Regions from separate parts of the Homo sapiens genome. Here regions 1, 2, 3 and 5 are each reported to be linked to region 4. Evidence: microRNA targets listed by miRTarBase, many of them from high-throughput screens and not tested one by one. Region 4 holds a microRNA gene; each other region holds the end of a gene's coding sequence.
Evidence for each region. The annotated mature microRNA hsa-miR-4659a-3p reads UUUCUUCUUAGACAUGGCAACG and lies in region 4 at 3,393-3,414, opposite strand. An mRNA with a match to its seed (bases 2 to 7 or 8) in the 3' UTR can be bound and repressed. Matches are read on the target gene's strand: a 7mer-m8 pairs with bases 2 to 8, a 7mer-A1 pairs with bases 2 to 7 and ends in A, and an 8mer does both.

Region 1 (6,536 bases), not on the chromosome of region 4:
TACTTTTAACTCCTTGAATACTCCAAAACAACACCATGAAGTAGATATCATTCTTATCCCCATATCACATCAAAGAAACTGAGGCATAGTGATTTTAAATAATTTGCCCAAAGTCACCCATCTTGTACATGGCAAACCAGCGTTTGCACAAAGGCTGTTTAGCTCAAGTTCAGTTACCTATACTGCCCTTTGAGAAGCAAGTAGATTTGTAGATTTTTATGATAAGTGCCAGTAGAAACTCTCATCTGGTTCCTCTTGTTTTCTTGGTGAAACAATGAGCATGATCATCAGGTGAGTGTAAGGAGGAGAAAAAGACAGTGTTGGAGTTAAGAGCAGGAGAGAAGTGAATGAGTTATTTAGGAGAATAAGAGGGAGTTTTGGCTAAGGAAGTGCAAAGGGATTTTCAAAGAGCATTAAGGATATAACTGAGGTTCATGACTAAGATTTTAAAGAGTAGCCAGCATGATGTGTGTTTTTCTCCAGCTACAGTCAACAACTATGGTACATGCACTAAAAAGTTGAAGAGTTGGACTGAACCGTGTTTGTGGTTTTGCCGGGCTAGATAGTGAATGGGGAGATAGGGGCAGGGGCAGTGAGTGTAGATGTCATGACTGATCACAGTATTTAAGTCATAACAAATGGCAAATGACAAGCTCAATGAGGAGAACATGAAGATATTTTCAGGTATGCCAAAAAATAAAAATAAAAATTCCAGTCAATGGAAAACAGCTTCTAGCAGGCTTTGAGCCATTAGACCAATATCTAAGACCAAATTTTTATTTTTTATTTTTTTTTGAGATGGAATCTCGCTCTGGCTGGAGTGCAGTGACGCGATCTCGGCTCACTGCAAGCTCCGCCTCCGGGGTTCACGCCATTCTCCTGCCTCAGCCACCCGAGTAGCTGGGACTACAGGCGCCCGCCACCACACCTGGCTAATTTTTTGTATTTTTTAGGGGAGACGGGGTTTTCACTGTGTTAGCCAGGATGGTCTCGTTCTCCTGACATCGTGATCCGCCTGCCTTGGCCTCCCAAAGTGCTGGGGTTACAGGTGTGAGCCACCGCACCCTGCCTCTAAGACCAAATTTTTAAAAATAAACCTAAAAACATTTTTAGATACTTTTCATCACTTCGTCTCTTCTTTTCTGATTCATTTTCAGTGAAAACATTCTTTGAAAGCATTAATATGAAAGTCTGTGTTGCATAACAAAATACTGCCTTATGAGTTAAAAAAGAGTTCTCATACACTGATAAGTTGGAGATGTTTCTAGAGTAGACACAATCCTTGAACAAGGAAGTCACTTTCAAAAATTCCTTATTAAAGCCTAAACTGGTTGGTTAATTGGAGGCTTCACAAGAAGGAGGGAACAACCTTGTCAACTTTGTGCTATCATATATGGCATTAATTTTTTTTTCAATCTTTAAAAAAATGCCATTTTAATTAGCACTACATTCACAAAAAGATCTTGGCTTATGCTTCATAGTGCACAAGACTATATCCCTATCTTATATCACAAACAGTTTCATATTTCAAACACATAATTTTTTATGTTTCTCAAGAACATATGGACATTTATTAATAGCTGTGGTCCCGCTAGTCAGTAATGGTATGCTCTTTCTCAAATTCTTGCTCAATGGACTCCTTCAAAATGGACTTCAACTTCCCCTACTTAAAAACAGGAAGAAATAATTAAATTAGTCTAAGTTGTTCTTTGTTTTATTTTGTTTTGTTTTGTTTTGTTCTGCTTAGCTGGGGAATGGGGGGAGCGTAAAATATCTCCTTAATCATTCATCTCTGGTTTCTTTTCCATACCACTTATGAGTAGTAAAAGCATTTTATTTGAGAAAATCTTTTACTTTTTAATAAAATGGTGACTAATTTTGTAATGCAAATAATGATACTTTTGTCAATTTAGCATTTTAATTTTCATGCATTGTGATTAGTGTTGTTGGTTTTATTTCTCAAGGCAGACCTCTAATTCTTTGTGTGAACTTCTCAATGTGCTGTTAACATCAGAAGGCCAGGATGGCGCAGTCTATTACTACCAAAAAGAAAAAAAAACACTTACTTTTAGCTGATCCGTCACACATACAGTCCATATGAAAGTGAAGATTCTAAGTTGTTAAGACTGAAGTAAAGGCTACTATTGCACCCCATAAAGAATCCACCTTTGGCTGAATAATAACTGCTTTACCTTATGCAACTTGCCCCACCTGCTCCTTACCTCCACACCAAGCCTGGAGATTGGCCACTCATGCTATCATATCCCTCCTTGTTCAACCAGGAAGCCTCAATCTTGAGAAATCTTCACGCTTCATTTCTTTCTCATGGACCCCTTAGTCTCACAAATTCTCTTCCTCCACCAATCTCCCATCCTCCTCCAAATTCCTGTCCACCCTTTCCTTCCAATCACTTTCCTCTTTCTTCCATATTGGGGTTATTACTCATTCAGTTCCATTTGTTTTCCCTCTGGAAGAAGCAAGGGACAGACTGTGATTCAACTCATGATGTCGGGGATAAATTAAATGCTTGTAAACATCTGACTTCTGAATTAACTATCTATAAGACAAGGAAATCATTATACAGCCTGCAATACCTTTGACCTCTTAGTAATATTAAACTTTGTTCTACTTTGGGTTGCACTATAAAAGGATGTCTTCTGTTATCCTACCAAGGCATATTCCTAGCCCAAGGAAAAGGATGAATATGTGTTCATTTCTTACTAGGACAGCTGCAGTAGCTTTCTAACCAGTCTGCCTGCATTCTGTGCTCTTCACCCCCACTCCAGCCCATTCTCTTCATCAAAGTTATGTAATCTTTTCAAAGTGCATATTAGATTATCTCACTCCCTTTGCTTGGAAAACTCCTGGGCCTCCCATTGCAGTTAGAATGAAAATTCAAGGTCTTTACCATGGCTTACCAAGCGGTACTTGACTTGGCCCCCATCTACCTCCTCCATCTTCTCCCCTACCATCTCTCATTTATCCATGGGGTTTCAATCACATTGGCCTTCTTTCTGCTGCACATATCCACCTCACTTTTCTCTCTCTCTCTGGATCTCATACTTGTTCCCTTTGGATATCTTTTCTTTCATATGTTTTCCATGTTTTGGCTTTTCATCCTTTAGGTACAGCTCAAATGGCTACCCCCTCAGAGATGTCATTCAGACTTCCCAATCTAAATTATAGCTTATCTGCTCCATCATTTTCTATCACATTACTTTTTATTTCCTTTATAACATTTATCGTAATCCAAAATTATCTTATTTATGTGTTTACTGCCTATCTTTATTCACTAAATGTGGTATCCTTGAAGGAAGACATTGTATCTATACCTGACATTTCCTGAAACACACTAGGGACTCAATAAATACATGTGGCTGGCCTGAAACAGAAGTGAGGAGAGAAAGACACCATCTTGTCACAGATGGTTATAGATTTGCTTGATGTCAATATGCATATCATTTGAGCCATACTTTATAATAAAGAATAAAAGAGTAGCTCCACAAACAAATGAAGAAATGAGTACTTTTTTAGTTTATTTTAATGCCTTTAAGTTTTTGGTGACTTTTACATTTGGAAAATTACATAAGGTAAATTATTTGTAGAGATTACAAAGTTAGCCATCCATATGATTGCACTTTTACTATAAGGAGATGCCACACAGTTCTCTGCCCTTGATGACCTCATATTATTTTTGCTGCAAGAGAAAGCAAACAAATGACAAAAGGTGAATATGAAGACAATGGAAAATGTTATATAAATAATTGCCACTCAAAAGTCATTCTTTAATTCCTGACAAATTTTGGATGTCAACTCAATGAGGACAAATTTGTGTAAGGATAAATTTGTCAACTTATCACAGATGATGGAGAGTGACTTTAACCAAATCATTTCTCTTCTCTGGTCTTCAGTTTCTTGATCTGTAAATTGAAAGACTCAGTGTAGCTGGAGCTCTGATACTCCTTCTTCACTGCAAGATTGCATGATTTTGTGAGGTACATGAATCATTTCACATATAAGTTAAAAAGTAATGTACACTTTCGCACTTATTCCAGTTAATAAAATGAAATTATAATTGATATAATAAAAAGTAACTCATTTGATAAATCCCCTATATATGTTCTCATAGTTTCAAAATTTATATTTTATTTTCTTTTGATTCTGGAAAACAAATTAAGGTCAATTCTGAATATAATGGTAAAATGAATCACAACTCAGCTATTAAGAAAAATTATATATTAGCCTTCTTTATTTTCTTCTCTCCTTTTTTTTTTTTTTTTTTTGAGACAGGGTCTCACTCTGTTGCCCAGGCTGGAGTGCAGTGGTGGCGCAATCACAAATCACCACAGCCTCAACCTGCTGGGCTCAAGCAATCCTCCCACCTCAGCCTCCTGAATAGCTGGGACTATAGGTGCACGCCACCATGCCTAGCTAATTTTTGTATTTTTTGAACACGGATTTAGCCATGTTTCCCAGGCTGCCCTCAAACTCCTGGGCTCAAGCAATCCGCCTATCTCGGCCTCTCAAAGTGCTAGGATTACAGGCATGAGCCACTACACCTGGCCTCTTCCTATCTCTTACATTAATTTAAAAGATTAATAAATGCATGGACAGTGTTTTAGATATAATAAAATATTAATAAAGACATTTATATTTTTATATATAATAAAATGATTAGTTTACCAACAATCAAAATAAAAAGATCCCAAAGCCACAGATAAGGATAGCCTACAGTGGTCTTTATGTTCCTTTGTATAATTCCTTTTTTTTCAGAGTCCAGTCTTGGATGTAATCCAATTGCGATAAGAAGTCACTCGAGTATAGACACCTGGCTTATTCTTTTTACCACATCCATCACCCCAGCTTACTATTCCAACAAGATGCCAGATATTTCTGGAATCAGGGTAAGCTAGTGGTCCACCAGAATCATTCTAGAAGAAGAAAAGAAAAAAATGTTTCTTGTCTTAACAAAAAATTTCCTTTTACCTCTCCTGTGGAGTTATCTGTACCTCCTGGGCACTGAAACCAATTCACTCTCTTTGGGCTTAGAACTCTGAAACCCTTAGGACTTTTTTTTAAAACACAAGACAGCTACAAACCAGAATATATGGCCTAAAACTGCCAAATGTTGACTTGAGCAAACCAGAGTTTGACTTATATAATGAGTGCAGCTTGAATATGGAGAAGGTGACTTAGCTGCTTGCACTGAGCTTAAGTCTCTATGATGAAGCCTCTGAGGAACAAGTGGCATAGGCATGTGCCCAGACTCCTGATGCATCTCTGGATAAAGAGAAGACAACATTCTAGGTCTGCAGGTTGCCCAGAAAATAGGACAAAATTCATCTTGTAAACTTCTTCTAAGTGTTATTCTTTGTATGAATTCCCAGATTGAAAACTTCGTGAGGGCAGGATTGTGTTCACCTCCACGTCCCTAGCATGTAGGCTAGTGTCTGGTACATAAATGGAATTAATACATTTTTAGTGTATTGAAATACAAAGCTACTATGTCAGTATTATTAACACAAAAAAAATTTTATGTGGATAAAAACTTCCATTTGATTAACTGGGAGAAAACAACTGGATAATGTAACTAGACATACCTGACATGCATCAGCTTCTCCTGACATAAATCCAGCACATAACATTGTATCAGTCACAAAGCCAGAGTATGCATATGAGGCATTGCAAATTTTGTTGTCAATAATCTTCAAAAAGTCTTCTTGAAGTATCACTGGAAATGAACCTAAAAGCAATAAGTGCTGCATATTATGCAGATCTTAGACTTTGCTGGGACAAAGAATATCTACCTATAGCATAAAGCAGACTCTCTTGGTCACCAAGAGTCAGGCCAGTCCCAGGTTAGATTAGTCTCTTTCAGGTGTTTGTAATAGTTGGCTGCCTAACACATAATTTCAATTTTTCCAATTCCCATTCCCAGAGATATTTTAGGAAGTGAAGACAATTTGACATCATGCTTTTTGTCCCACCACTTGGTTTTCTTTTCAGTATATTTACTGATTGATTAATTGCATGAGGGGATGATTGATTGATTGATTGATTGATTGATTAAATAGTTATTCCCATGCAGCTATTATGATTTTACAAAAAAACTTACCATTCATATAAAGTGTTCCCCAACCTGTAACTACAACATTGTCATTTTCTGAGAGCTTCATTTTGGCTTCAGGAAGACAAATCTTACGAATGTACTCTGTAAAAGAAACTTCTTCAGCAAGCTGCACAAGGGCAATATCATCATGAAGCCCAGGACTGCTATAATTTTCATGAAAAATAATGTTTTGGACTTTCCGTGTCATATATGGTTTATTTACTACAATTCCAAAGTTGACAGTCCAATCTTTTGAATTATTTTTCCTAGAGGACACAATGTAATTAGAATACACTCAGTTGCTGGGTCACAACACTGTTCTTAGTGGTGATTATCTCATAATTTTAAGGCATGAGGTTCCCAAACAAAACTATAAACCACTGAAATTCTATTTTGAAAACTATCTTTGACATGGAGCTGTTGTAAA
Region 2 (6,423 bases), not on the chromosome of region 4:
TATGTGGGTGGTCGCAACGGAGACCTGGAGGAGATCTTTCTGCACCCTGGGGAATCAGTGATCCAGGTTTCTGGGAAGTACAAGTGGTACCTGAAGAAGCTGGTATTTGTGACAGACAAGGGCCGCTATCTGTCTTTTGGGAAAGACAGTGGCACAAGTTTCAATGCCGTCCCCTTGCACCCCAACACCGTGCTCCGCTTCATCAGTGGCCGGTCTGGTTCTCTCATCGATGCCATTGGCCTGCACTGGGATGTTTACCCCAGTAGCTGCAGCAGATGCTGAGCCTCCTCTCCTTGGCAGGGGCACTGTGATGAGGAGTAAGAACTCCCTTATCACTAACCCCCATCCAAATGGCTCAATAAAAAAAATATGGTTAAGGCTAGTCTGTGTGGGGGCATCTGTGGCTGGGATATCTGCCTCCTGACTTAGCCGGGGACGTGCAAATCTCACTTCTGGCTGGCTTTGGACATCTGTCTGGAAGATGGGAAGATGAGGGAGAGGTATGTAAGAATCCTGGGCTTTGTGCTATAATTTATCAAGAGGAGATGAGATTCTGGCTTGCATCAACGCTCTTCAAGGACAGCTCCTTGGAACATTGATCCAAACTGGAGTCATGGGTCTGAGGGCAAGGCCTAGTTGTGGCTTACACCAAAACCCCAGATGTCCCACTCTCCAGCTCTCCTCACCCCTGGTCCTCCCCTTGAGAAAGTGGTGAACTCACTTGCTGTGTGTGGGTGGCCAGGACCATTAGCCTTTGTTCTTTCCCAGAACCCACCTGACTCCTGAAACTTAGCTGAAGTCTGTGCCCGAGGACCCTGCCCTGTTACCAGGCCCAGTTCCTCCTCACCTCTACCCATGAGCCCCGGTGTCCTGCTAAGCCCTCTCAGATCTGGGATTCCTCCTTCCTCAGGAAGCCACCACCTTCTCAGCAGTGGAAACCCTGCCCACACTATGCTCTTAGGCTTTAGCCATCAGAAGGTTACAGTGGACTGCGGGAGGCTGACACTAGGCTGAACTCATTAAGGAATGAATGGGAGGTGAGAAGACACAGGCAGCAAGAATCGAGTGTTTCAAGAAGTTTGGCTGTGGTTTGCCAGAAATAGGCAAGTCAGTTTTCGGGGGTGTAAGGAAAAAGGGTTTTGTGTCTTTTTAAAATCCTAGACAGGAGAGTCACAAGCATGTTCACATGATAAAGAGGAAGAAAGAGAAAGAGGCTGGAGATTCTGAAAAGAGATCACTGGTGAGGTCTCAAAAGAGATAGAAGAGGATGGTTATGTAGTTGGGGAAAGAAATTTTAAGAAGGGAAGAAAATTAAAATGAGTGAAGGTATACGTTAGTTTTGTAAAAGTTATCAATATCTGGCTGGGCACAGTGCTCACACCTGTAATCCCAGCACTTTGGGAGGCCAAGGCAGGCAGATCATTTGAGGTCAGGAGTTGGAGACAAGCCTCCAACATGGTAAAACCCTGTCTCTACTAAAAATACAAAAATTAGCCAGGTGTGGTGGCAGTCACCTGTAATCCCAGCTACTTGGGAGGCTGAGGCATGAGAATCACTTGAATGCTGGAGGCAGAGGTTACAATGAGTTGAGACAGCACAACTGCACCCCAGCCTGGATGACAGAGTGAGACTCCATCTAAAAAAAAAAGGAATGTTATCAGTATCAAAATGGAGTAACATATGTCACATCCTAACAAAATGGAACCAACCTGACACCTAAATTAAGCATTGCACCTGATAACACCATGGAGGACTGGGTGGAGAATCAGCAGACAATGGCAGGGAGAGGCAGTCTGTGGACCAAGTTCAGGTGAAAGGATCACCCATCATGTTGGGCATCAGATCAGGCAGGTTCACACACTACCTGAGGAAGCTGGTCTTTGTGACAGACAAGAGCTGCTCTGCCTCTTGGGAAACACAGGCACCAGTTTTAGTGCCATCTTCTTGCACCCAAATGCTGTCCTTTAACTCATCAGTTACAGTGCTGGATCCCTCATCACTGCCAATACGGGGCTAGCAATATGTCTGCCCCAGTGAATGCAGCCGCCACGGAGCCCCAGCCTCCTCTATGGCAGGGGCCCTGTGGTGGGGAATGAGGACTTCTCTATCATTAACCTCCATGCAGTTGGCTCAAGAAAAGGATATGGTAGTTGGGCAAGGGGGCTCACACCTGTAATCCCAGCACACTTGTAATCCCAGGAGGGTCGCTTGAGCCCAGGAGTTTAAGGCCAGCCCGGGCAACATAGCAACCTGTTTGTAGGCAAAATGAGGAGTTGAAGTTCCCCGTAGGATCTTCTAGGGCTCAACCAGCCTTCATGTGCAGTGGGACTGGCAAGAAATCTGTCATCCCTGTTACCACTTTGAAGGTCTCAGTGTGTATGCAGGTCCTGAAAAGTTCAAGTCCCACCTGAAACGCAACACAGCATCATGCTCTGATTCATCAGTGATTCCCTAATCAATGCCATTGGCTTGCATTGGGACTATCTATCCCAGCCTATCCAGTGACTTCAGCAGCTGCAGAGCCCCAGCCTCTTCTTTGGCAGGGGCACTGTGGTGAGGAGGAAGGATTCCCTTATCACAAATCTCCATCCAATTGGTTCTATAAACAGATATGGTGGCCCAACTGTTGCGGGAAGTCAGGGACCCCGAACGGAGGGACTGGCTGGAGCCACAGCTGAGGAACATAAATTGTGAAGATTTCATGGACATTTACCAGTTCCCAAAATTAATACTTTTATACTTTCTTATGCCTGTCTTTACTGCAATCACTAAACATAAATTGTGAAGATTTCATGAACATTTATCAGTTCCCAAATAATACTCTTATAATTTCTTATGCCTGTCTTTATTTTAATCTCAATCCTGTTATCTTCATAAGCTGAGAATGTACGTCACCTCAGGACCCTGTGATGATTGCATTAACTAACAAATTGATTGTAAAACATGTGTGTTTGAACAATATGAAATCTGATTGTAAATGTGCATTTGAACAATATGAAATCAGTGCACCTTAAAAAAGAACAGAATAACAGTGATTTTAGGGAACAAGTGCAGAGGTTACAATGAGTTGAGATAGTGCGACTGCACTCCAGCCTGGATGACAGAGCGAGATTTCATCTAAAAAAAAAAAAAAAAGAATGTTATCAGTATCAAAATGGAGTCACATATGTCATATCCTAACAAAATGGAACAAAAAGGGAAGATAACCATAAGGTCTGACTGCCTGCGGGGTCGGGCAAAAAGAGCCATATTTTTCTTCTTGCAGAGAGCCTATAAATGGACGTGCGAGTAGGAGAGATATCGCTAAATTCTTTTCCTAGCAAGGAATATTAAATATTAAGACCCTAGGAAAAGAATTGCATTCCTTGGAGGAGGTTTACAAATGGCCACTCTGGGAGTGTCTGTCTTATGCTGTTGAGATAAGGACTGAAATATGACCCGGTCTCCTGCAGTACCCTCAGGCTTACTAGGATTGGGAAATTCCAACCTGGTAAATTTTGGTCAGACCGGTTCTCTGCTCTCGAACCCTGTCTTCTGTTAAGATGTTTATCAAGACAATACATGCACAGCTGAACATAGGCCCTCATCAGTAATTCTAATTTTGCCCTTTGTCTTGTGATCTTTGCTTTGCCCTTTGCCTTGTGATCTTTACTGGCCTCAGAAGCATGTGATCTCTGTGACCTACTCCCTGTTCGTACACCCCCTCCCCTTTTGAAATCCTTAATAAAAACTTGCTGGTTTTGCGGCTCAGGTGGGGCATTATGGACCTACCGATATGTGATGTCACCCCCCACCAGCCCAGCTGTAAAATTCCTATCTTTGTACTCTTTCTTTTTATTTCTCAGACCGGCCAACACTTAGGGAAAATAGAAAGAACCTACGCTGAAATATTGGGGGCTGGTTCTTCTGATACCCAACACCATGGCTCACAGCTGTAATTCCAACACTTCCAGAGGCCAAGGCAGGAGGATCACTTGAACCTTGGAGTTTGAGGTTGCCATGAGCTATGATTGTACCAGTGCACTCCGACCTGGGTGACACAGTGAGACCTTGTCTCTAATAAGAAGAAAAAAATGCCATTTTAAAAGTGTACACTTTCATGGTTTTTAGTATATTCACTGTATTGTACAACCATTACCACTACCTCATTCCAGAACACTTCCACCACCCCCAAAAGAAAGCAGTTACATCTGTTCACTGTAGTGCCAATTACTCAACCCCTTGTCATCCCCTGGCAACCACCACTCAGGTGTACTTTCTATGTCTGTGGGTTTGCTATTGTAATTTGAAAGTTCACTGATGTTACTTTAATTTGGTTTCATTTTGAATACAGTAAATATGGATCAAAACCCATATATACGGAGCATCTTTAGAGGCCTCATTTTTGTTTTTTTTTTTTTTTTTGAGATGGAGTCTTGCACTGTTGCCCAGGCTGGAGTGCAGTGGCGTGATCTCGGCTCACTGCAACATCCACCTCCCAGATTCAAGCGATTCTCCTGCCCCAGCCTCCCCAGTAGCTGGGAATACAGGCGCCTGCCACCACACCCTGCTAATTTTTTTATTTTTAGTAGAGAGGGGTTTTCACTATGTTGGCCAGGCTGGTCTTGAACGCCTGACCTCGTGATGCACCTGCCTCGGCCTCCCAAAGTGCTGGGATTACAGGCGTGAGCCACCACGCCCAGGCTAGAGGCCTCATTTTTTAAGACTAATGGGATCCCAAGGCTAAACGTTTGAGAAACACTGATCTAAGATTTGTGTTTTGTTTTGTTTTGTTGTTCAATCAAGTGGAACATAATGTCTAAACCAGGGCCTTACCTACCTGGAACTCAAAGGTGGAATGACCTTCCCTGGCCAAGCTTCCAGAAGGGACAGGGAGCTACTTAACAGACTGCTGGACCCTTAACGACTGGAAACCGGAACCGTGGGTGACGGAACCGACCAGACGTGACAGCCCTTTGGCTGGGGCTGCAGTCCCACGATCCACACAACGACTCTGGCTCCGCAGACGCGCCAACCACCCACGGAGGCAAGAAACTGCCGAGAGTGAAGGGAAAGGGAGCCCAGTGCTGGGCGGCACTCAGCAGCTCCCCCAGCGGCCACTGTCGCCAACGTCTCCGCGTCGGGGTTTGTACCGCAGCTCGCGTCCAGTCGTCAATGGCTGCGAGGCCCATGCGCGCTCCAGCGTCCTGACCAGGGGAACGTTTTCCTTAGGGACCCGGAGGCGAGCGCTGGAGGGAGGGATGGTTGCTAACGCAACTCTCTGCAGGGCAGACCCACCAGCACCCGCACGCAAACTACGGGCTGGAGCAGTCTAACAGAAACTCTCTCAAAGTCGCTCACGGGTTGCCATTCTAGGTAAGATTTGTGAATAAAACTAATTCTTTAAAAGCCTGAGTTTTTCTTTAGTTGACAGTTTTAATTAACATACTCTTTTCTTTCCTCTTCTGCAGACCCAGCCTCACCATTCCAATGAAGACATCAATTAACCCATGCACAGCCGCTACAAACGGGGAGCTCATTGCCTGCAGGGAAGGACCCTCTACAGAGAGCTACCTGGGGGCTGGGAAGCAGGACCCCAGGCTGAGTCCTGCCTTTTGGTAGTGCCCCGCCCCGGCCAATGCGGCTGTTATATCAAAGTACATAAAAGTGAAGGCAAAGGGTGTCCACGTGGGATAGACTGGCATAGCTTCCTGGCCACCCATGGTGCTCCATTATCTCTTCGAGGACCCCTTCTCCACGAGACCCTCCAGGTCTGGTCCTCTATCGTCCAGCCCCCATTCTCTTCTCCATCACTGCTGCTGTGTCCCAGATGACCTTAATTTAATCTTCACATATTTGAAGGACAGAATCATCGGCCTCACCCACTAATTATTATTATTATTATTTTATTTTATTATTATTATTTTTTGAGACGGAGTCTCGTTCTGTCACCCAGGCTGGAGTGCATCACTGCAAGCTCCGCCTCCCAGGTTCACGCCATTCTCCTGTCTCAGCCTCCCGAGTAGCTGGGACTACAGGCGTCCGCCACCACGCCTGGCTAATTTGTTGTATTTTTAGTAGAGACGGGGTTTCACCGTGTTAGCCAGGATGGTCTCGATCTCCTGACCTCGTGATCTGCCCGCCTCGGCCTCCCAAAGTGCTGGGATTACAGGCATGAGCCACCGCGCCAGGCCTAGACCCACTAATTATCTTTTATGGCACAAACTCTATGTTTTACTTTTGCCCAGGCTGGAATACAATAGCGGCATGATCTCCGCTCACCACAACCTAGCCTCCTGGGCTCAAGTGATCCTCCCACCTCAACTTCCCAAGTAGCTGGGAGTACAGGCATGCGCCACCACACTTGGCTAATTTTAAAATGTTTTGTAGAGAAGGGTCTCACTAGGTTGCCCAGACTGGTCTTGGACTCCTAGACCCAAGCTA
Region 3 (6,536 bases), not on the chromosome of region 4:
CTTCCAGAGTTTCATTTTCTCCTGGGATGATGATAATACAGGCTTTTGATTCTTAACCTTTTTTTATTTGGTTGACTTACGTGAACTTTTCTACAATAAAGAACTGGAAATTTTGAAAAGAGAACCAAAAGAACAAAGCCAATACTAAAGCAGTCAAATGTAACTGCCAACTCCTCCCCAGCCCCACAGTTTGAAAACAACCCGTTTCACTCAATGCTCTACCTCCAGCACCTAGAACAGTGCCTGGCAAAATTATGCATTTATGCCTTTGTAAAATTTGTTGAATGAATGTTATTCCTTTGAAAAAGAGGAGGACGACAGTAGCACTGCTAAATACGGGTTTGAGTTTTGGGAACACACCGAGGTTGGTCTGCTTTACAATGGATCATCCTTTCTTCGGCGCCTTTCCTGTTGATGTTGACCAATTCGGCACCGTAGTTCAATTGTCAGCTTCCTTCCATTTGTCTACGTTCTTTATATATATGTTCTTAACTGTACTGAAAAATCAAATCTATTTTTGCCCTCATTTATAAACTACAGACAGTGCTTGATTACTACTTGTCGATTTCATCCTAAAGGAAACTGTTCTCCAAGATTAAGCTGAAAGACATGTCAAGCGTGCCAAACCTTGCTCTCCTAAGTTTGCTTCTTTCCTTACACGTGTGCTCTTAACCTCCTGCCATGCCTTACTATTGGCAAGCAGATCCCTAGAACTTAGGCTTTAACCTGTTGACTTTAGAGTGGCTTCTAGGTCATTTCTTCTTTTTTACAAGTCTGCCTGTCTACTAATATGCATCAGGTGAGTACAAGGGATAGAAAAGGCAAGAAACACCAAAGAGGTACTTCGTTTTTATTGTTTAATCTGGGTTCTTAATGGGTACTCTTGAGCTGTCCGCATTGGTGGGCATTTTAAAACTAAGAGCACACTAAAAGTAGAAGATACCATCACAATGCTTATCCTGGAGATGCTTGCTGGGGAACAGCTCTGCAGCCAGAGCGCCGTGCAGGGCAGAGTGTAAAACTGAAAGCTGGAGGGCTGGAGAAACAGGGACTGTTTTAGGTTGAGTTAAAGAAGACTTCTGGGATGGGGGGATTTCACGGTGAATGGATCTTGTAGGACTGGCAGGTGGGTGTAAGGGGGGCACACATAGAGGGCCCTGCACAGGGGACACTTAAGTACTGTGGTCCTGGTGCTCAGCCTTTTCACCTTAGCACCCCTGATATTCTTTTTTCTCTCAGTGAATTAAAAGCTGTTACCGATCATACAGAGTGCATTTATGAAGTAGTAATTAGCTTTCCCATGTTTTATTAATCACATCTGTGACTGCCAATCAGAGCTTCTGATCAGCATGAGATAACTGGTGTGACCATACTGAGTTGCTGTAATTCTAGCCCAGAGCAAAGAAACTTGATGTCTCTGTCAGTGTCTGCAGCCTTATCAGGGGTAAATTCCTGTTCAGCCTACTGCAATGCTGAAATAGCTTGAAGATCCTCATTACTACCTTTGTGGACCCTCGAGGGGCCTCAGTTTGAGAAGGATTTCCATCCAGGAGACTGGTATAACTAGGGTAAAGGGTCTATTGGGAGTCACGGGAGATATGGGTCCTGTCTTTGTATTCATTATACTTTGAGAAGGAATGAACATAGAATTTCTAATTTCTAGACATGGCTTTCTTACCCACAAGTTCTCAATTATTTGTATAAGTGTAATTACTGTATTAGCTGGAATATTTATTTTCACTTTTTTTTTCTCCTTTGTAATTCTTAGCTTGGTGTAAAAATTGCCAAAGCAGTTGCCTGCCACAACTTTGTAAAAGCCAAAAAGGAGGTTGAAAATTCACAGGCTGCCCGAAAAAAGAAGAAACTTGCATGGGGGTGAGTTTACTTAAGATTTTTGGTAGTAAATCTCCTGACTTCATAGAAATTCTGCTAATATATTTTGTGATCTAGTTCGTGTATAACTGTTAACTCATTTTACATTTTTTTCTTCGTTGAATGTTTATCAGATTATAAATATAGAGGCATTTCTTCATCCTGTTTAATGTTTATTTTGTAATCATTGGAGTATGTGAAAAATTTTTGTTTGTTTTGCTTTGGTCTCTAAGTAAACATGTTCAGCAAAGTATTTTTTTTTTTAAGAAATAAATTGAGATTTGTATGTTCTTCCTTTTAGGTTTGAAGCAAAGAAGAGATGGGAAACCAAAAGCAACATGGGATACATGTAACTTGCCAGAGTGCTTCAAGACATTTGTAGACTCAAATGCTCAATTTACTGAGAATGTTTTCCTGCCTATGTTAATATGTCAGAAAATTGATAGCACTAAAACAAAAATAAGCATAAAATTTGGGATTTTGATTATCAGCTCTTTTCAGTCTTTCTTTAAGGACTTTGTCCTATTGAAGTGAATAAAATGAAGCATTCTGTTATTTGTATAAGAAATGTAAGAAAAAAAATATAGAAAGAAGAGGATAGGATTTTGTTTATTTGTATGGATGGACCCTTGGTATAAAATCACTTTTGGCGCTTTCCATTCATTTGGTTTAGCACAGCCAGTGAGCTTCTCGTACTTTCTTTCTTTTTTTTTTTTTTTTTGAGACAGAGCCTCGCTTGCTCTGTCACCCAGGCTAGAGTGCAGTAGCACGATCTTGGCTCACTGCAACCACTGCTTCCTGGGTTCAAGTGATTCTCATGCCTCAGCCTCCTGAGTAGCTGGGATTATGGACAAATGCCACCACACCCGGCTAATTTTTTTTTTTTTTTTGTATTTTTAGTAGAGACAGAGTTTTGCTGTGTTGGTCAGGCTGGTCTTGAACTCCTGGCCTCATATGATTCACCTGCCTCTGCCTCCCAAAGTTCTGGGAGTACAGACATGAGCTACCATGCTGCCCTTGTATTTTCTTATCTGTACCCAGTGTAACTACACGTTTACTGGAACTGTGTTTTTAAGACTGACAGTTGTTTATAATGGATTAGTCGTAAGTACCAAAAAGTCTCAGTTGATATTATCTTTACAAATGACTTGACCTTAATGTTATAAAAGTAGTTACTGTTTTTTTTTAATTGGAGGCAGACTTGATATTTCAGAGTTGCATAGTAAAAGCAATTTGTTAATTTTTGTGTACTTTCAGATAAACTATTACAATAAAGAAAGGAGCAGAATGTAGTATTTGGAAGATGATTTAAATTCAGCAACGCCTAAAAATGTCTTCCTAAGTATTTTTCTCAGCCATGTCATTCTTTAAATTATGAGATGGTTCTTAGAAGAGAAAATGGTGTAATTGTATTAAACAGACAATTATAACTCAAGATAATATAACTTTGAACCTTCTAAGAACTGATTTGTTTGGTTTTCCTCCCATTCCCCATTCCTCCTTAAAAGATTGAATGAATTAATGAGCAGAAAGAGAGGATTGGTAACATGGGAAATCGTTTTCATTAGATGTACATTTCCTGGTTCTGACAGGAAAGGGGCTCCAGAAAATCATAAAACAAGCAGGTGAACAAGACCAGGTGTGTCGGCACCTCCCTGCTCAGTGCCCAGCGGAGGTAAAGAACCACTCAGCATGGTTTTTGTCAGTTCACCTCTTCTGTCGTTGTCAGAGGTTTCCTACCTGTCTGATATAAACTTTCTCTGGGTTGATAATATAAATTCAGAAACATGTAAAATGAATCATGATTATATTACTGTTATTTTTAGACTTAAAATAGTAACAAAATTTTATTTATGGTGGCACATTTAATGGCTTTTTTTTTCTGTGTTCTGGAATAAGAGAATACCTAGCTACTATTTAAGCATCCAAAAATCATATCTTGCTTTCATTTAGTTGAGAAAAGCCAGCATAGAGAAAGCAAAGTTTTAGAATATTATGTGTCATACTAATTCAGTATCCAGACCAAATGTTGGAAAGTCTTATTTTATGATTTAATATCCCTTGTTCCATTTTACAGATATGATCATGTAAAACTTACCTACAATATTCATTTCAAACTGCTAAATTAGGTAAATACAGACTTTTAGTATAGAAACCTTTCCTCTAAAAATCCATTATGGGGGAAATATTCACTATACAATCCAGTGGTTTTGTCTGAAATCCTAAAAATGTTATTTTTGAGCAGGCGAGTGGTATAGATATTCTCACACTTGGGGCCCCGATATGGGCATTTCCCTTTGACTTCAGTCTCATTTTTTTTTTTTTTTCTGTTTCTACTCCTTAGAGCATTTAGTGACCCCTGCAGGCATGTTGCACTTCCCATACTGAAGCCTTGCCAGAGTGGCCTCCTGTAGGGTCTGACTTGGGATCCTGTCCAGCCAAGGAAGCCCTTCTTCAGCCTGCTCCAGTGCCCGCAGTTGCCCCCTCAGCATCCCCTCGGGGTTCTCATGTAGATGGGAACATTTTAACTACGCGGAAGGCAGGCATTTCAGCAGAATTAAGTATAGCGGGGGCTCATCTAATAAAGGAAGCCACTTCTCCCAAGTCGTCACTCCTTTCTGGGCATGGGTTGTGGAAAGCTCTAAAACGTTATGTGTAGCAGAAGAAGGGGTTGGAGGGAAGATTTGTGGGGACAGGTTGTCTTGGATTGGCCCTGCTGACATGTCATTTGAGAGCAGTTTTATTTTATCCTTTCTAATAGGAATTAGGTATTTTACTCCTAGAAACATTATTCCTTGAGTACGCATGCTGCTCAAAGGATGTAGTCATTTGTCCACTCCATTCTAGTCACAGCAAAATAAGGATTCTTTTTGGATCAGTAATAACTTTGGTTCCTAAAACTTCAATATGTGCATTTACTACCACCAGAATGCCTGAGTTAGATCAGTAATGTAAACGTCAGTTATTGTTAACTGAGATTAATATGTTTCAGGCCGTTGGTATGGCATTAATGTAACTATGATTTACTATTTAAGTACTTTAGGCTAAAACATCTTACTAAAGAACAGTAATTTTGAGCTTTACAGCACTGGTTCTGAGAAAGGGAAGTTGGCAGTGCATTCTTGTTTGGGAGCCCTCAGGATGTTTCTGATTTTCAGCAGAACATTCTATGTCTTTCACCGAAAGGAGAGATTGAATATATAATCTTAGGTTTGCTATAATTAGTTCTGATGACAGAGTTAAATACCTCAGCCAAGACTGTAAATCAGTACGTAAACAGGTTTCTGCAACTGATCATAAATCTCAAACTGCATATTTTAAACACTTATTTTTTTAGGATGACAGATAAGGGAGCAGCAGGCTAAGGATAGGAATAAAATGTTATCTGAACTTTTAAGTCACAACTTAGAACTCACATTAAAATCTTCTGATTTTCTTTATACCTTTTGTCTAAAATATTATCTTTTAGCTTATTAATAACTTTAATAAGACAAGTTTGAATTTAATTCACAAAAAATGAAGATATAATTTATAAAATGTCCAAATTTTTGTTAAGACATTACTTTTTAAGAAATGTGTGTCTTGCTAAATATAAAACATATTGTATGAGGTTGTTGTTTAAACAAAATGAGAGTTGTACATTATTTTTTAAGAGATGATAAAGTTTGAGGAGGCAAGCCGATGTTATGTCAGATCTCATTTTGAAGTTAGTGAAACCTAGTCTAATCCAGAACCAACTGAATCCAAGTTTTCCATTTTGGCAGAAGTTGCTTTTATTTTTAGTATCTGGCAGAGCAACAAATGCTTTGCATGTCAGTTCAATATTTTTTCCTGCCAACTGTTTATTCATTGGCTTAAAATTTACACTCTACTAAAGTCTTAGCTCTGACTTTCATGAAACAAATAGTAATATTTGGACAAAATATGTACATGAAAATCTTTTTCCAGAACCAAATGTAGACTGGTATTTGTGACATCAGTGCCTTCTAGCATGGTGACGGGTCGAAAAATACTTTGAAAAGTTGAAGGCTGTGTAAACCCACGGCAGTGCATCTCAAGTGATTTTTATTATGAGGTAATCAGAGTATCTAGGTTTTCAAATTTAAATTAGTGGGTGACTTTATGCTAGAAAGTAGAATATGTGTTAGAATAAATTTATCAATATATATTCTTGGCCTTTGTAGGATACTGAGACAATAAGGTCCATTTTTCATTTTTGAGGTTGGGGAGCTCTGTAGATTTTGATAAAATGTGCAGAACTGCATTCTTTAATCTTTATTATTTCATCCTCCCTCCACACTGCTTGCTTTAAAAGAAAAAAATACCTACACACATTTTCTAGTGTTAACTGCTGTAATCAGCATAGACTTCCTGGGAAGGGATTCTTGCCTTCAGTAAAGGACATGACAGCATGTGGCCAATGGAGATTGCCACGAGGAAACCTGGAAAGGCATTGAACCATTTTGTGCTACTGTTAAAATGAGGTGTGTTGTCTCTTTATTATCTCCTACTCAATAGTGAGTATTCTGGAGGTGTCTGTTCCCTTTCCGGAATTTCTTCAAATACAGAGATGCTTCAGAGTAGCTTCCTGCCACATTGGCTTTCATGATCTTAATCCCTGGAACACAGCTATAGGCTTCTGGGAGATAGTTTATTAAATGCCA
Region 4 (6,536 bases):
GGCTGAGGCAGGAGAATCGTGTGAACGTGGGAGGCGGAGGTTGCAGTGAGCCAAGATTGCGCCACTGCACTCCAGCCTGGGCGACAGAGCGAAACTCTTGTCTCAAAACAAAAAACGAAAAACAAAAAAACCCCATGAAGCCTAGTGTTCTCTCTCAACCCCAGCTCAAACAGATATTTTGAAAAGGAAACAGAAACTCCACACACTTCCCTGTTTGCCTATTTCCATGTTTACATTTCTCTAACAGCTAACACTATGTTTGGTTAGTTTAACTAAGTTATCCTGCTCACTTAAAATTCTATTTTTTTCTGGTTATATCTGACAATAGCTCAAAGGTTCTTAAAACCTAACATGTTTGGGGAAAAAAAAAGGTCACACTTAACTGCATTTCTTCTTGTCACAATGACACCCAAATTTAATAAATATTTTACGAAAAATACAGCAAAAGGGCAGCACTGACTAATAACGTGCACTCAGTACTGCCGGGCGTGCTCCTTCTTCACGTCTTCCTCCCTTTTACAGAGCTTTCCTTTTAAGTGTGAACTTTGAGTAGAAAGAGGCTGGATTAATGATAATTGGTGAGTCCACAGGACTCACACGACAGCCAAGAAATACCACACTTTGCAGGACTAATGAAATCTCCACTGTTACATCTTAATAACATCTTGAAAAATATACCGGGTAAATGTAATGAAGGAAAAAAGTACACTTAACCTACTTTGTAAAACTGAATTCTACATAAACATGTGCACTGTATATACCGTGTACAGGCATTTCAGGTGCGTGAACACACTTACCCGTCATGGTCGGTGACTCTCTTCGCTGCCCTCCATCGTCTTTCCCTTCATAAACCACCGTAACATCATAAATTGCATCTAAATAATTCTTCATGCAATCAAAAGCAACGTGAGTTGCCTTTATTCGTGGTGTTAGCACATGTTTTAATACTGCAAGGCCTAGAAGTCAATTCAGTGCCGTCATTAATTAGTTACAAAACACCTCCACAATATACTGTTTAACATCTAAATTATTTTTAAATTCCCTCAAACACACACAACAGAATCTATTAATTCCACAACCTCATATATTTAGGGCTCTAAGTTTAGAAAGCACTCTCACTTGCCTTTTTCTGTTTAAATCAATATTCATTTGCTATATATTGATCAAATATCTACATGTACAAGTCACCGTGTTGGAAGTTTATGGCCTAGCGGAAACGCTTCAATCTAGTAGACCCCGGCAAGGGTAAATATTAGTGCCCTCGCTTCTGGCCACTGAACAAAGGTGATAGCATCTTGCCCATGGTGACTCAAGATTTCCTAGAAATACAGTCACACAGCACATGGCCTCCTGTTTCTGGCTTCTTTCGCTCAGCATGGATCTGAGGTTCATCTGTGTGGCTGCAGGACTCAGTGCTTCATTCCTTTTTATGGCTGAATAGTTAGTATTCCACTGTGTGAACAGATCACATTTTGTTTACCTATTAATTGCTTCATGGACATTTGGGTTGCATCCATACTTTGGCTATTATGAATAATGCTGCTATGAACATTCATAGGAATTGCATATGAAGGCTGCAGGTGAACAAGCTTTTGTATGAACATACGATTTCAATCCTCTTGGGTATATCTGACATATTTTTAAAAGGTTCTTTAGCTGGGGGACTACTGCAATTATCCAGAACAAATCCCATTCATTAGGTTCCTACTAGGGTTAAGGATTTGTTCTTCTCTCCTTCCTATTACCTCCCTTTTCCTTGATTAAAATATTTACTGACAATTTAACAGAAAACAGTAGCTCTCAATAAGTGACATGAAAATAGACTATAAAAAACTAGTCTAGATTTTCTACTGGCCTCTCTGGAGGGAAAGTAGCTGAGTAAGGAAGAACAGCTATTACATGGTGGGACTGTCCCACACAAGAGGTTTTAAAATGCAGGGTGGTGTGGGAAAGACAAAGATTCCCACAAGCACGTATCTGACTTTAGTCCCCAGGGCAGGGGCAGTTAAATTGATTCACAAACTTGCAACAAAAATCTCAATCGCACACCAAGCTGGGAAGCATTTATTTGTCAGTTAAACTAGTTAACACTTCCTTCTTTGCTACTGGAGCTCATCCAACTTTATGAAGTCCAAAGTTTCAAAATATCACTCTGTGGTGTTCACTAAAACAACTAATTACTGGCATCCAAGTAAGTTAGTAAGGAAATAAAGACAGAAAGCTAGTATTTTTAAAACATAAAAGGAAATGAATTATCATGAATGTTTTAAAAAAATAGCTTTGTGACTAGGCTTCTGCTCCAGAACGCGTAGATAAAGCCACACCATAACTAGAAGGGGAATGGCCAAGAGGAAGACATGCAGAGCATGCCTGCGTGCACCCACCTGCCATGCAAAGATAAGTGGAAGAGCAGGAGGCAGGGAAACAAAGAGAACACGGAGCCGGGCGCGGTGGCACGTGTATGTCTGTAGTCCTAACTACTCAGGAGGACTGCTTTAGCCTGGAAGTTGGGGAGTGGGGGAGAGAAGGAAGAGAGGGAGGGAGAAGAATGCAGAAAGAAAAGAGAGAGAGGAGAGAAAGCAAGCAAGCAAGAGAGAACGAGTGAGGGAAGGAAGAAAGGGAGGGAGGGAAAGAAAAGAAGGAAGGGAGAGAGAGCGAAAGAAAGAAGGAAGAAAGAAGGGGGAGAGAGAACATGAGTTCAAATTGGGCATACTGAGGCTGAAGGAACAAAACATTCTAGAAGTAGTTGGAAATATGGTCTGTAAAATGGCAAGAATCAACCGAAGCTAAGCATGTGGAAACCATGGGAATGGATAACTGAAGTAATGGCAGTGGCTGAGAATAATAAAGGGCAGAAGATGAAAAGGCAAGAAATACAGACTCCGGAAACATCCACATTAAAAAAAAAAAGGTAAAAATAATAACAGGGAATACGACAACCCAGGAAATAAAAAAAGGGGGGAAACCAATGTAATACAAAAACAAAGGGAAGAGATGTTTAAAGGAAGAGGAGGTGATATTTATCTTCAACAAGAAAAATTATACTCCATTGTTTATTTCTACAATAAAGTTAAAATTATTTCCTGGTTATAAAGGTATAAATAATGTCAAAAGTTATGTGAAAGTTAACAAATATGACAACTGACACAAATGATACGATGCTTTGGAGGTCAGTGGTTAAGTGAGAAGTGGGATTCATTTCTGGAGAGTGGATGGAGTCAAACACAAGAAAGCAAGGGGCCCAGACTTCTCTTTGCACAGCTATAGACTTAGTTATTTCAGAATTGGAGTACATTTGCAAGCTGGGAGAAACCCCTGCAGAGAAGTAAGGCAGATGACTGAGGCAACGATGGAGACAGGGTAGACGGAATCAAGAGCTTAGAAACTGTTGACGTTGCCATGTCTAAGAAGAAAATTTTTCTCCAAAGTTTTCTTCTTAGACATGGCAGCTTCAGCAGTTTCTTCCAAAGAAATCCAAGTCAAGAGACTCCACATTAAGATTTTGAAATCAAAAGGGATATTGGGTGCACTCTTTCCAGAGAAATATAACTTTCTGAAAGCAAAAAATCCTTGAATGTGAAGAGAACAAAAATCCGTGAAAACCATGAGGTAGTCAAAAGGAGAAAAATAAAAGAACTGCTCCACACAGACTTGGCTCGGCTGAAATGAAATGGCCTGGCTTGGCTGCAGAAGGCAGTCAGCATTGATCTTACGATGTTCTCCACTGCTAAGGAAGGGAGAAAACAAACAGGGTTGCCAAGGGCTGAGGAAAGGCAGGGCAGGAACAGAACAGCCCAGCACTGGGATGGGCAGACCCCGGGGCTGGGGCAGACAAGAGCTGCAGAAGGCCCTGCAAGCTGCAGAAGGGCCAAGGAAAGAGAGATTAGAAATCAGCCAAAAACACAGGTTTAGAGCGAGTGAGGAGGAGGGAGAACCAGAGTCAGCTATATGGTGTGGGCGAGCCAGTGCCATTTCCAGATGAACTTCAAGGTGGTAAAAGCAGAGCACTGGACCCAGCACAGGACCTCGAACCAAGCACAGGATCCCAGACCAAGCACAGGACCCCGAACCAAGCACAGGACCCCGTACAGGAGAACAAGATCCCCCCAAGCCTCCACAAAGGACTGCAGCCCTGCCAACACCTTGATTTCAGCTGAGTAAGACCCATTTCAGACTTCTCAAATGTAAGAGAAGAAATCTGTGGTGTTTTAAGCCACCAAGTTTGTGGCCCTGCCTGAGAGCAGCCACAGGGAGCAAACACACCTTCTTAAGAGCGAGAGTGCCGTTACCACACAAAGCTGAGCACTAGCTTTCTTGTTTGCTATGCTTTCTCAGAAGTTGGCTTCAAAGTATTCATTTAATTTCTACTTCTTTGATTATGAGAAAGAATAAACATTTGTTCAAGTGTGTGGGTCATTTGTATCTCTTGAATTTCTTATTCATGCCCTTTTCCCATTTTTCTAGTTTATGTCTTTTCTAATTATGAAGCACTTTTGTAATATTAAGTATATTAATATCCTATATTATAAAATATTATTAGCTTGCCATTTGCCAACTAAATTTGTTCATATGATGTTTGAGACATAAAAATAATTTTTATTCAGTTAAGTCTACAAAGAAAAAAATTGCTTTGTAGCTTATTCCCTTTGTTCTCCTGTTTTGAAAGAACTCTCAAATCTCTACAATCGCCAGTGTTATTCACCCTATGAATAACATGGAAATTCTAGGTATCTGGTTTGCCATTATAGACACATCATTAAATTTCTGTTTTCTTTTAAGAGAGTTCAAAAAGCTTAAGTATGTCACCTTCGCTAGCAACTATGGTTTTAACCATGGCAATTAAAAAAAAAAAACCACCATAGGGGCTTACTTTAATGGGTCCAGGTGGCAGATTAAGATACATTTAATTCCACATCCCTTATAACCATTAGAAAGCCAAATACCTAAAACAAGTCTAAGGAAAATTAGTTAAAACAAAACCCTTCGAACAGCTGAGAAAAGTTTAAATATTACCACAGTGCCTGCACTTCTGCAGGACCCCATCTGAACAGCTTCTTCCTCCATGTCTAAGTTTCCTATAAGAGGTATGCAACTGCTATCAATTTGTTCTTTTTGTGAATAAAACTTAGGCAAAAAAACTGAATGATGGAGTTACCAAGACAAGAAATATGAGTGTATGCATGGAAGGATAAATTCTATCTTCAATATGCTGAGTTTGAGACATCCTTTTGGGCCAGTCAAGCGAAGCTCTCTAATGGACAATTGTACAAATGGGTCCAGAGTTAGGCAGAGAGACATGGAGGGGAGGAAGCTTTTGCGAGTCATCAGCAGTCAAGGAAACGATGGCTAAAGCCATGGATTTAGAGGAAGGCCACCATGAGAAACAAAAAGTGAAATTAATCAAACACCAAAACCTGACACTGGAAATAACACATGTAGCAGGGAGAAATGAAGCAGAAAGAGGCTGGAAAGGAGGCTAGGAAGTAATCGCCAGAGAGTTGGGAGGATAATGGAGAACAGCCCCACAGAAGTCTAGGGAGAGAATTTCAAATCAGACCAAAACAAATTGAGGGCAGAGTGAGTACTGGAAAAAGTGCTTACAACAAAGGTAGACTACAGATTCGAGAGTGGTTTTTGTTTTGTTCTGTTTAATAAATGTGAAAAGGGCAAAAGAGACAATGGCATTGCAAAAGAGCAACTGAAATGACAGAACGTCATGTCTATTAGACAGAGGAAGCAATGAAAGTCAAAAGAGAGCTGGCAGATGGGGAGACCAACTGAACCCTCCTATTCTGAAACACTCCTTACTTAATAGGACATGTGTTTAAAAACAAACTGGCATTTTTTAAAAGTACTGTTACAAATGATGTCATATACCTATGACATATCTGCTCTTGTAAGCACCTTGTAAAAACTCCCCCTTATTTTTAATTAAACTAAAATTAAATAAAATTAAAAATTAGTTTCATGCACTAGTCACATGTTGAATGCTCAAAAACCACATTGGTAGGAGCCAGCACACTGGACAGAACAGATGAAGAACTTTACCATTATTGCAGAAAGTTCCATTAGACAGCACTGTCATAGGCCCTGCTGTAATGTCACCAACAAGGTATTTGCTCAGTGAGTGACTATCAACATATGGAGATCACACACTAAATCACAGTCAAGCTTCAAAGACACCTCTAAGAACATAGCATAGCCACTGTTTTCTGTATACTTCCCAATTTGGTTAAATTGCATAGCTTATTGGTGTACCAATTATTCAATTTTCTAAAATATGGATATTAAGAACATTACCATTGTTGAAGACATTAACAGCTTCCAAGCACTGTGGACCAACTTTGTGTAACTTCTCCAATAGAAACTTGACATATTTTCTAATCTAATCCTCACACAGATTTAGATCTACTTATAAGGCATATGTTCTTTTAAGAGATGAAGAAGCAAGCTCAGCAACATTACACAACTTCCAAGTTGCAACCATACAGCTAATAAAAGTACGAGTTTGGACTCCAACTTAGGTCTGTCATCTT
Region 5 (6,536 bases), not on the chromosome of region 4:
ACTACTTAATTTCTCATAACAAAAATAATTTACCTTTGCTTTTTATGCTTAGCTTTTAAATTTTATTTCTTATTTATGAAACCATTTATATGCTTTACATATTTTTGGTCCTTTACCATTATACAAGTTTTATTACACTTGACATTCTTGAAAAACAACTCTAGCATAACTACTATTGAGAAGGTCATATATTAAATAAAGATTAATTTGTATTTTTAAAATATTTTTCTAGGTCTAGAAAAGGGGACAATGAGGAGTTCCATAGCTTTAAATTAGACTTCATATACATCAGAAATTGAAAAGCTCTCTGTTCAACAATAGACTTACTTTCTTTGTCTTTTTATTTTTTAAAAAACTCATTTGTAATTATACACATGCATTAAATAGTTAATTTTGCTCTTTGTTTATTAAAAAATAGTAGTCTCAGTGTTCAAATCCCACTCACCTGGAATCAATAATTGCATTGTCAAGGAAACTTCCCACTGCAGGGACCAATGTATCTTTCATCCCCTTTAATTTCTTGGAAGTGTAAACAGCAGAATTTATTATTCTTGTTACGTAGCAATATAGTCATTTGTGAACATTTCATTAAAACTATCTGCTGGCAATTCAGACTCAGTGTGACTAAACCTGCTCCTGGATTTGAGTTATAAATTTAGAAATGAAGTAGTCGATTTCTTTACTACATTATTCAATTTCTACTAGGAAATAGTGCTTGAAATCCAGGTTTCATTAAGAAAAGGTGGTTAAAATATATTGGCAGGTTTTTTGTTATTACAATTATTATTATTATTATGGTAAATGAGAATCAGTCTCAAACAAGTCCAAGCACGGCTGTAACATTTAATTTCTGGAACACAATATAATTCACTACAACTAGGCAACTGTCTGTTCATAAACAAAGTGAAACCCATTCCAAACACTCCAATAATATCCCAAACTTGGTGAATTTTCAGGTATTCAGTGAAAATTCAACATGACTGTTAGCCAAGTACCATGTGAACTTCCCCATATATAAGACTGTAATATTTCTGATGTATAAATGTAGTCATACATTCAACTCTCCAAATTCTTCAAAATGTCTTTCAATATAAAAACCTAGTCCCTTTTTCATTACAGTAGAGGTCATTCTACCTGTCTAGAGGTCTAGTTTCAATTCCCTCCACTTCGGGCCTCAAACTTCATGGTCCAGCAAGACTAAATCTACCTTTATATTCTATACGACACACCTTGCTCTGTCCTTTTATTATGCCTTCGAATATGTTATTTCTTCTACCCACATGATAGTCTCCTTTAGTAAAACTGTATTTGAAATCTCCCTTACCCAGGCAATTTAAAAGCACAATTTGTCTGTGTTACTGGGTATGCACATGCAACTCTAATATTCTGTATTATAATTGTTTGAAGATCTTTTCTCACCAAAAAAAGGCCTTGGAAGGGACAATATTCTTGTTTTCCTAGCATTTAGTACAGTATTTAGCTAATAAAACACAGCTATATATACACATGAATGACTATTTGTCCATTAATACAAATATTTACAGTACATATAAGAGGAATAATAATGTTAGTAGCTGTTGAGTACTTAGCATGTGTTTAGTTGATGTAATATGCTGTATGTGCTTCATCTCCAATTCTCACCACAGCCCTGTGAGGTGGATTCTATTATTTCTATTATTTTCATTTTGCCCTTGAGAAAACTGAAGCTCTGAGAAGTTAGCCACATAGCCCACACGTTGTCATATAGCAGAATCAGATATGAACTTCAGTCTGTCTGACTCCAATGTCAGTGCTTTCCCCGATGCACCTGGCTACCTTTTGATTATTGTCAAGATCCTGGAAGACACAAATTAGATTTTGATTTAATCTTTTCCATTTCTTTCCAGCTCCAAGTACAGCCCAGTATGGAATTACCGGGAGCGCTGATGTTCTTTTCTCCTGCTGGTACCTTGTGTTGACACTGTCCTCTTTCACCAGCATATTCTACCTGAAGAATGCCATTCTACAATAAATTCAAAGACCCATAAAAGGCTTTTAAGGATTCTCTGAAAGTGCTGATGGCTGGATCCAATCTGGTACAGTTTGTTAAAAGCAGCGTGGGATATAATCAGCAGTGCTTACATGGGGATGATCGCCTTCTGTAGAATTGCTCATTATGTAAATACTTTAATTCTACTCTTTTTTGATTAGCTACATTACCTTGTGAAGCAGTACACATTGTCCTTTTTTTAAGACGTGAAAGCTCTGAAATTACTTTTAGAGGATATTAATTGTGATTTCATGTTTGTAATCTACAACTTTTCAAAAGCATTCAGTCATGGTCTGCTAGGTTGCAGGCTGTAGTTTACAAAAACGAATATTGCAGTGAATATGTGATTCTTTAAGGCTGCAATACAAGCATTCAGTTCCCTGTTTCAATAAGAGTCAATCCACATTTACAAAGATGCATTTTTTTCTTTTTTGATAAAAAAGCAAATAATATTGCCTTCAGATTATTTCTTCAAAATATAACACATATCTAGATTTTTCTGCTCGCATGATATTCAGGTTTCAGGAATGAGCCTTGTAATATAACTGGCTGTGCAGCTCTGCTTCTCTTTCCTGTAAGTTCAGCATGGGTGTGCCTTCATACAATAATATTTTTCTCTTTGTCTCCAACTAATATAAAATGTTTTGCTAAATCTTACAATTTGAAAGTAAAAATAAACCAGAGTGATCAAGTTAAACCATACACTATCTCTAAGTAACGAAGGAGCTATTGGACTGTAAAAATCTCTTCCTGCACTGACAATGGGGTTTGAGAATTTTGCCCCACACTAACTCAGTTCTTGTGATGAGAGACAATTTAATAACAGTATAGTAAATATACCATATGATTTCTTTAGTTGTAGCTAAATGTTAGATCCACCGTGGGAAATCATTCCCTTTAAAATGACAGCACAGTCCACTCAAAGGATTGCCTAGCAATACAGCATCTTTTCCTTTCACTAGTCCAAGCCAAAAATTTTAAGATGATTTGTCAGAAAGGGCACAAAGTCCTATCACCTAATATTACAAGAGTTGGTAAGCGCTCATCATTAATTTTATTTTGTGGCAGCTAAGTTAGTATGACAGAGGCAGTGCTCCTGTGGACAGGAGCATTTTGCATATTTTCCATCTGAAAGTATCACTCAGTTGATAGTCTGGAATGCATGTTATATATTTTAAAACTTCCAAAATATATTATAACAAACATTCTATATCGGTATGTAGCAGACCAATCTCTAAAATAGCTAATTCTTCAATAAAATCTTTCTATATAGCCATTTCAGTGCAAACAAGTAAAATCAAAAAAGACCATCCTTTATTTTTCCTTACATGATATATGTAAGATGCGATCAAATAAAGACAAAACACCAGTGATGAGAATATCTTAAGATAAGTAATTATCAAATTATTGTGAATGTTAAATTATTTCTACTATAAAGAAGCAAAACTACATTTTTGAAGGAAAATGCTGTTACTCTAACATTAATTTACAGGAATAGTTTGATGGTTTCACTCTTTACTAAAGAAAGGCCATCACCTTGAAAGCCATTTTACAGGTTTGATGAAGTTACCAATTTCAGTACACCTAAATTTCTACAAATAGTCCCCTTTTACAAGTTGTAACAACAAAGACCCTATAATAAAATTAGATACAAGAAATTTTGCAGTGGTTATACATATTTGAGATATCTAGTATGTTGCCCTAGCAGGGATGGCTTAAAAACTGTGATTTTTTTTCTTCAAGTAAAACTTAGTCCCAAAGTACATCATAAATCAATTTTAATTAGAAAAATGAATCTTAAATGAGGGGACATAAGTATACTCTTTCCACAAAATGGCAATAATAAGGCATAAAGCTAGTAAATCTACTAACTGTAATAAATGTATGACATTATTTTGATTGATACATTAAAAAAGAGTTTTTAGAACAAATATGGCATTTAACTTTATTATTTATTTGCTTTTAAGAAATATTCTTTGTGGAATTGTTGAATAAACTATAAAATATTATTTTGTATTGCAGCTTTAAAGTGGCACACTCCATAATAATCTACTTACTAGAAATAGTGGTGCTACCACAAAAAATGTTAACCATCAGTACCATTGTTTGGGAGAAAGAAACAGATCAAGAATGCATATTATTCAGTGACCGCTTTCCTAGAGTTAAAATACCTCCTCTTTGTAAGGTTTGTAGGTAAATTGAGGTATAAACTATGGATGAACCAAATAATTAGTTCAAAGTGTTGTCATGATTCCAAATTTGTGGAGTCTGGTGTTTTTACCATAGAATGTGACAGAAGTACAGTCATAGCTCAGTAGCTATATGTATTTGCCTTTATGTTAGAAGAGACTTTCTTGAGTGACATTTTTAAATAGAGGAGGTATTCACTATGTTTTTCTGTATCACAGCAGCATTCCTAGTCCTTAGGCCCTCGGACAGAGTGAAATCATGAGTATTTATGAGTTCAATATTGTCAAATAAGGCTACAGTATTTGCTTTTTTGTGTGAATGTATTGCATATAATGTTCAAGTAGATGATTTTACATTTATGGACATATAAAATGTCTGATTACCCCATTTTATCAGTCCTGACTGTACAAGATTGTTGCAATTTCAGAATAGCAGTTTTATAAATTGATTTATCTTTTAATCTATAACAATTTGTGTTAGCTGTTCATTTCAGGATTATATTTTCTACAAGTTCCACTTGTGGGACTCCTTTTGTTGCCCCTATTTTTTTTTAAAGAAGGAAGAAAGAAAAATAAGTAGCAGTTTAAAAATGAGAATGGAGAGAAAAGAAAAAGAATGAAAAGGAAAGGCAGTAAAGAGGGAAAAAAAGGAAGGATGGAAGGAATGAAGGAAGGAAGGGAGGAAGGGGAGAAGGTAGGAAGAAAGAAAGGATGAGAGGGAAGGAAGAATCAGAGTATTAGGGTAGTTAACTTACACATTTGCATTCTTAGTTTAACTGCAAGTGGTGTAACTACGTTTTTCAATGATCGCATTTGAAACATAAGTCCTATTATACCATTAAGTTCCTATTATGCAGCAATTATATAATAAAAAGTACTGCCCAAGTTATAGTAATGTGGGTGTTTTTGAGACACTAAAAGATTTGAGAGGGAGAATTTCAAACTTAAAGCCACTTTTGGGGGGTTTATAACTTAACTGAAAAATTAATGCTTCATCATAACATTTAAGCTATATCTAGAAAGTAGACTGGAGAACTGAGAAAATTACCCAGGTAATTCAGGGAAAAAAAAAAATATATATATATATAAATACCCCTACATTTGAAGTCAGAAAACTCTGAAAAACTGAATTATCAAAGTCAATCATCTATAATGATCAAATTTACTGAACAATTGTTAATTTATCCATTGTGCTTAGCTTTGTGACACAGCCAAAAGTTACCTATTTAATCTTTTCAATAAAAATTGTTTTTTGAAATCCAGAAATGATTTAAAAAGAGGTCAGGTTTTTAACTATTTATTGAAGTATGTGGATGTACAGTATTTCAATAGATATGAATATGAATAAATGGTATGCCTTAAGATTCTTTGAATATGTATTTACTTTAAAGACTGGAAAAAGCTCTTCCTGTCTTTTAGTAAAACATCCATATTTCATAACCTGATGTAAAATATGTTGTACTGTTTCCAATAGGTGAATATAAACTCAGTTTATCAATTAAAATATGTATTTGACTCATTTTAAAACTCTATTAGCTTAAGAGAAAGAAGGAAGAAATAATAATTTGAAGATATTTCTGCTATTCTCTTTATTTCCTGTATTACACTCATCTTTCTGCTTACTCTAAAGCAGTACAGGGTAAAAATTCTAGATGCTACAGTTTCAAATGACTCCACACTATATTCTTTCTTGCTGTTGCTGATTCCTAAAAGGTTTGATGAGCTGAACTACATCTAAACTAAAAATAAATTTTCTGGAAACATTTTATTATTAATTATTTAGAACCTTTACCTGGTAAAATACAGCAGAGTTAGCAACAGAGACTAAATATCCTGTTGATAAAATCCTGATGATCTTACAGGCTAAACAACTGAAAACTCAAACGCTTGTAAGAGCCAGGCAGAGTGTAATTTCTTAACAGCTGGGTATAAAACAACGGGCACCTGAAGGTATTCAGATACAATTTCCTTAAAAATACCTTGGTTTCCAAGCAAAACACGTTATTTGGCTGAGAACCTTTAGTTTGTAAATACCAAACCATAATATACAAATGAGATCTCAAGCCAAATGAATTTTTTAAGCCCTCTTTCCCATATCTGTTCATCTATGATAGTCAACTGAATAAATGAGAACAATGTGATAGATAAAACAACAAAGCATAAAAAAGATTCATGCTTGGTTTTATAAGCTATTTTGAAATATAAGTATCATTGCTATTCTGAGAAATCTATATACACCAAAGCCCTCCCTCCACAAAAAAACTGGAAATGTTCTAATAAATGTCTGATTTCCCCCACAGCTTCATTATTTCTTCCCT

Region 1: the mRNA of TMPRSS11B is a reported target of hsa-miR-4659a-3p. Seed matches in the 3' UTR shown: 8mer at 4,253-4,260.
Region 2: the mRNA of ZG16 is a reported target of hsa-miR-4659a-3p. Seed matches in the 3' UTR shown: 7mer-A1 at 1,198-1,204 and 7mer-A1 at 1,304-1,310.
Region 3: the mRNA of FAM204A is a reported target of hsa-miR-4659a-3p. Seed matches in the 3' UTR shown: 7mer-m8 at 4,533-4,539.
Region 5: the mRNA of NEGR1 is a reported target of hsa-miR-4659a-3p. Seed matches in the 3' UTR shown: 7mer-A1 at 4,779-4,785, 7mer-A1 at 4,917-4,923 and 7mer-A1 at 5,770-5,776.

Annotation. Positions count from the first base shown.
Region 1 is chr4:68,223,142-68,229,677 of GRCh38, forward strand. TMPRSS11B (transmembrane serine protease 11B) reads right to left here. Exons shown (of 10, transcript NM_182502.3): 8 at 6,116-6,375; 9 at 5,601-5,743; 10 at 3,512-4,931. The coding sequence ends at 4,770. Among named protein-coding and RNA genes, the nearest start is that of TMPRSS11B, 19 kb to the right of the region's middle.
Region 2 is chr16:29,780,138-29,786,560 of GRCh38, forward strand. ZG16 (zymogen granule protein 16) reads left to right here. Exons shown (of 4, transcript NM_152338.4): 4 at 1-2,836. The coding sequence ends at 282. It overlaps LOC124903675 (a long non-coding RNA gene), which reads right to left and starts at 5,196. Exons shown (of 2, transcript XR_007065048.1): 1 at 4,820-5,196; 2 at 2,830-3,117. RefSeq lists a silencer at 4,149-4,288 and an enhancer at 5,145-5,234.
Region 3 is chr10:118,306,546-118,313,081 of GRCh38, reverse strand. FAM204A (family with sequence similarity 204 member A) reads left to right here. Exons shown (of 9, transcript NM_022063.3): 8 at 1,769-1,875; 9 at 2,174-6,536. The coding sequence ends at 2,225. Among named protein-coding and RNA genes, the nearest start is that of FAM204A, 33 kb to the left of the region's middle.
Region 4 is chr8:6,742,090-6,748,625 of GRCh38, reverse strand. It overlaps MIR4659A (microRNA 4659a), which reads right to left and starts at 3,462; the gene lies at 3,382-3,462. It overlaps AGPAT5 (1-acylglycerol-3-phosphate O-acyltransferase 5), which reads right to left. Exons shown (of 8, transcript NM_018361.5): 6 at 798-956. It overlaps MIR4659B (microRNA 4659b), which reads left to right and starts at 3,386; the gene lies at 3,386-3,458. RefSeq lists enhancers at 152-301, 1,224-1,518, 2,120-2,169, 3,782-3,861, 3,892-4,171 and a silencer at 2,310-2,359.
Region 5 is chr1:71,402,921-71,409,456 of GRCh38, reverse strand. It overlaps NEGR1 (neuronal growth regulator 1), which reads left to right. Exons shown (of 7, transcript NM_173808.3): 7 at 1,887-6,536. The coding sequence ends at 2,011. Among named protein-coding and RNA genes, the nearest start is that of ZRANB2-DT, 320 kb to the right of the region's middle.